Regions from separate parts of the Homo sapiens genome. Here region 1 is linked to region 2. Evidence: fine-mapped expression QTL. Tissue or cell type: skeletal muscle. Region 2 holds a variant in brackets; the other region holds the start of a gene. All regions are shown on one strand. Distances are from middle to middle.

What was found. PIP is the estimated chance that this variant, and not a neighbour inherited with it, causes the effect.
Region 1: DRC4 starts here. The variant in region 2 is fine-mapped to the expression of DRC4 in skeletal muscle (GTEx, PIP 0.98).

Annotation. Positions count from the first base shown.
Region 1 is chr16:90,021,612-90,024,213 of GRCh38, forward strand. It overlaps DRC4 (dynein regulatory complex subunit 4), which reads left to right and starts at 1,069. Exons shown (of 11, transcript NM_001481.3): 1 at 1,069-1,113. The coding sequence starts at 1,111.
Region 2 is chr16:89,073,351-89,075,952 of GRCh38, forward strand. LOC105371412 (a long non-coding RNA gene) reads left to right here. Exons shown (of 3, transcript XR_933889.3): 3 at 10-2,602. Among named protein-coding and RNA genes, the nearest start is that of ACSF3, 19 kb to the right of the region's middle. The variant T/C (reference allele first, on the strand shown) is at 1,396.

The DNA.
Region 1 (2,602 bases), 950 kb after region 2:
CTCCCAGCACTTTGGGAGGCCGAGGCAGGAGGATCACTTGAGGCCAGGAGTTTGAGACCACTCTGGGCAATAAAGCAAGACCCCGTCTCTATTAAAAACTTAAAAAAAAAAGCTGGGTATGGTGTCTCACACCTGTAGTCCTGGCTTCTCAGGAGGCTGAGGTGGGAGGATTGCTTGAGCCCAGGAGGTCGAGGCTGCAGTGAGTTGTGATCACAGCCTAGGCGACAGAAGGAGACCCTGTCTCCAAAAAAAAAAAAAAAAAAAAGCACCTGTTTATGACAAACTCAGCTTTCTGGGTGACATAGATGGTTGTATGTAGGTAACAGGGTGGTTTCACGGATGGCAGATTCATTTTAGAAATTGTAAAATGGCTAGCAGTTTTCAGAACAAGAGATTAGTTAGAAAAGGAAAGTGGCAGCTGTTTGTTTTCTGCAGGGCCTGTCGGGAAGCCTCTGGTTTCTTTTCATCCGTGAGGAGTGGGGAGGAGGCCTCTTCAGGAAGAGCAGTTTATTTTTGTGAAAGGAATACTTACTGATTTCAAACATTTGGAACTAAACTGGAACGTATTTTTCTTTCCGATTTCTGCGTTTTTGAGGTGTGTGTAAACCCACCAGCGCAGCAGCTGGGAGGGCCCTTCAAAGGTGGGCGGGTGGGGTGAGTGAGGCCCAGGGGATAGAGTGTTTGCCCAGATTTGAATCTCATTTGGGGAAAGTTTCAGAGGCTTGGGTGGCTGATTGATCATTCCTTCAATGGTCCTTCATCAGCACGTCTTTACTGAGCACGTGCTGTGTGCTGTTCTAGGCGCTGAAGGATAGAAGTGAAGGGTTCCCCCCTCGTGGAGCTTAGGTTCCAGCAATAAGCAAAACATGCCCTGCAGCGAAAGGCTTCTGGGCTGCCGGCGACATTTTCCCAACGTTCACAACCGGGTTCCTTCCGGACGCCCGTCTCTAGGGACGCACTCCCGCCTTTGGCAGGGCCGCTGCCCGGCGGAGTCTCGCGAGGATCTTGTGACTTATCGCGGCATCGCCCAGCGGTTGCCGGGAAACGGCGTGGCTTCCGGGGGCGGGCGCCCTGGTCCCGGAGTCGCCGCTGGGCCTGTCCGCTGGCGTCATGGTGAGCAGGGGCGGGAGCGGGGCTGGGGTCCTCGGCAGGGGCCCGGAGACCTCGGGGCAGGGAGGCCTCGGTACACGGAGACCCTGGGAATGGGAGGCCTGGAGCGCTGGGTTTCTGGAATTGAGAGCTCGGTGCTCTTGTGGGGGTCTCCGTGGGGCAAACTCAGGATGCTCCCGGCCCCGGGGCCTGGCAGCACTCGGGACTGAGACCTGGGCTGTCCAGAGCCCTGTGCTCACAGGGGTGGTCATAGAACGCCCAGGGCCCGGGGTCGGCGGCGCACGGTCCCCAGAAGAGTGAACATGCGTCAAGGGGACTCTCATCCTGGAATGGCAGACTCGGTCTGTTGGATCCCTGGGACCTAGGGTTTCAGCTCACGAGGCTTTGCAGAGCACCAGGGTCCCCATGGAATAGAGCCGGAGGCAGGAATTACCCTAAGACCTTTGGTCTCCCGGATGGAGAGCCTGGGGCACACCAGAGTGGCTAGAGATCCCTCTACACCAAGGAGGCCCGGACAGGTCCAGTGCCCTTGGAGTGCCCAGGGCACAACCTTGGGATACAGGAACCACTGTTCCCTTGGAAAGCCTGGCAGGAGTCAGGCCCAGACCGAGAAGAGGAAGGCGGAGCTCGTGGCCTCATCAGCTCCATGTCTGTCTTTCTCTTGTAAAGGGCTCTCCCTTTGTGGTACAGGAATTGTCAGTAACTCAATTTCTGGGCAGGTGTGGCAGGGTGGGTTTCAGCTGGTGGGGGGAGGAAAGCTCTGGGAGCCCCACCAAGTCCCTGCAGCTGGCTGTGAAGGTCCCAAATGCTAAGTAATGCTGAACCTTCCTCCACTGCCTTCAGGGCTTTGTGATGAGGTAGCCTTCTTGGAGTGGAGGGATTAAAAAGAGAGCAGTACATTACGAATTAAATTTAAGTAGATGGGTTTTCTGACCCAGGAAGGGTCTTCTGAAAACCGACTATGAAAGAAACTACCAAACTAGGCCAGGAGTCTGGGCGCGGTGGCTCACGCCTGTAATCCCATCACTTTGGGAGGCCGAGGCAGGCGGATCATGAGGTCAGGAGATCCAGACCATCCTGGCCAACATGGTGAAAATCCATATCTATTAAACATACAAAAATTAGCTGGGTGTGGTGGCGTGTGCCTGTAGTTCCAGCTACTCGGGAGGCTGAGGCAGGAGAATCACTTGGACCTGGGAGGCGGAGGTTGCAGCGAGCCGAGATCGCACCACCGCACTCCAGCCTGGCAACACGTCTCTTAAAAAAAAAAAAAAAAAGCAGGGTGTAGTGGCTGACGCCTGTAAACCCAGCACTTTAGGAGTCCAAGGTGGGTGGATCACTTGAGGCCAGGAGTTGGAGACCAGCCTGGCCAACATGGTGAAACCCTGTCTTTACTAAAAATACACACACACACACACTCACACACACACACACACAAAATTAGCCGGGTGTGGTGGTACGCACCTATAGTCCCAGCTACTTGGGAGGCTGA
Region 2 (2,602 bases):
TTTTTATAGGGACGGGGTCTCGACCTGGACCAACCCAGGCTGGTCTCAAACTCCTGGGCTCAAGCAATCCACTTGCCTAAGCCTCCCGAAGTGCTGGGATAACAGACGTGAGCCGCCACACCCGGCCTTCACATGGTTTGAGCCGCCGCACCCGGCCTCTCACATGGTTCTTCTCACGGGCGCTCCCCACATGTGCGGACCCCTCCTTCGTGGCCTCCAGCTTCTATTTAGAGAGGGTGTGACACGCTGAGATCTTTCACACGGGTGGTGACGGGACTGAATCGAGTTGCAGGACGCCAGCGGGTATGAGAGCTGCTGCTGTGGAGAACGGCAGCACCATTTCCACACCCACGTGTGGCACTTGGTCACGGCCCATGCGGGAAACAACTACACCCACCTATTTCCCTCCCAGAAAACCTACGTTTTTCTTCCCAAGACAGACACTGTGTGCTCACAACACCCTGTTGCTGCCTTTCCTGAGTAGTATGTGTGCAGGAGTCCTCACAGCAGCCGTGTCGCAGGGAGCAGGCGCCACGGCCTTGGAAGCCAGCACAGTCAGCGAAATTCCGTAGGGAGCTGGGACTGACACGGCCCAGTCATGTCATGGATGAGCCATGTCATGAACGACTCATGCATGCACCAGTCACGTGAGGACCTGTCACGTGTGGACCTGTCATACATGCACCAGTTGAGTGTGGACCTGTCATGTGTGAACTTGTCACGTGAAGACCTGTCACATGTGAACCTGTCACGAGGACCTGTCACGTGTGGACCTGTCACGTGTGGACCTGTCACGTGAGGACCTGTCACGTGTGGACCTGTCACGTGAGGATCTGTCGTGTGGTCCTGTCGTCTGTGGGCCTGTCACGTGAGGACCTGTCATGTGTGGACTGTCACGTGTGGACCTGTCACGTGTGGACTGTCACGTGTGGACCTCTCATACATGCACCAGTCACGTGTAGACCTGTCACGTGTGAACCTGTCGTGTGGTCCTGTCGTCTGTGGGCCTGTCACGTGTGGATCTGTCACGTGTGGACCTGTCATACATGCACCAGTCACGTGTGGACCTGTCGTGTGGTCCTGTCATCTGTGGGCCTGTCACGTGTGGACCTGTCACGTGAGGACCTGTCACGTGTGGATCTGTCACGTATGGACTCTCACGTGTGGACCTGTCATACATGCACCAGTCACGTGTGGACCTGTCACGTGTGAACCTGTCGTGTGGTCCTGTCGTCTGTGGGCCTGTCACGTGTGGATCTGTCACGTGTGGACTGTCACGTGTGGACCTGTCATACATGCACCAGTCACGTGTGGACCTGTCGTGTGGTCCTGTCGTCTGTGGGCCTGTCACGTGTGGACCTGTCACGTGAGGACCTGTCATGTGTGGACCAGTCA[T/C]GTGAGGACCTGTCACGTGTGGACTGTCACGTGTGGACCTGTCATACATGCACCAGTCACGTGTAGACCTGTCACGTGTGAACCTGTCGTGTGGTCCTGTCGTCTGTGGGCCTGTCACGTGTGGATCTGTCACGTGTGGACTGTCACGTGTGGACCTGTCATACATGCACCAGTCACGTGTGGACCTGTCGTGTGGTCCTGTCATCTGTAGGCCTGTCACATGTGGACCTGTCACGTGTGGACTGTCACGTGTGGACCTGTCATGCATGCACCAGTCACGTGTGGACCTGTCACGTGTGAACCTGTTGTGTGGTCCTGTCGTCTGTGGGCCTGTCACGTGTGGACGTGTCACGTGTGGACCCGGCTGAAGGCAGGATGCCTCAGCCAATCCTATGCCTGGGCAGGGCGGGGGATGCCTCTGCATTTTCTGAGCCCCATGGCCCTGCAGTGCTGCTGGGTGGCTGTCACAGACCCAGGCCAGCCCCTCCTCCCAGGCAGGCAGCTGGAGCTGCAGGGGAGGGTGTCACGGCCAGCCCAAGAGGCCTCATCCCTGCTACCGGGTACCTGCCGTAGCTATGTCCAGCCCAGGTCACTGAGTGTGTAAACACACCTCACGTCCGCGTCGAGAAGGCGTCACCAGTGCCTGCTGAACAAAGAAGGTCTGGCCCAGTGTGGCTGCAGCCAGGAGGCCAAGGAGACCAGTGAGAGCACCGCCCTCGCCACTGACGCTCTTGCTGGGCTCATTGTTGTGCTGGGCCCAGTGGAGCAAAAGACAGGCCTCCAGCCGGGGCACCTCCCAACAACTCTGCACCCTTGATTGAAATGCAATGTCTGCGGCTGACGGCCACGTGACTGCAACCCACCCTCCCGGCTGCCGATTAATTTTACCTTTTGTGCTGCCAGCTGCAGTGGGTTCATGGTGAGAGCTGAGTTGATGCATGCGAGTGCGAGGGTGTGTTAATGTGTGCACATGTGTGACTGTGTGAGGGTGTATATGTGTGTGTACATACATTGTGTGCATGCGTGTGAGTGTGTACACTGTGAGCACATCTGTGAATGTATGCGGGTGTGTCCCTATGAGCACGTGTGTGTGCACGTGTGACCGTGTGAGGGTGTATATGTGTGTGTGCATACATTGTGTATGTGAATGCATGTGAGTGTGTACACTGAGCACGTCTGTGAATGTATGTGGGTGTGTCCATATGAG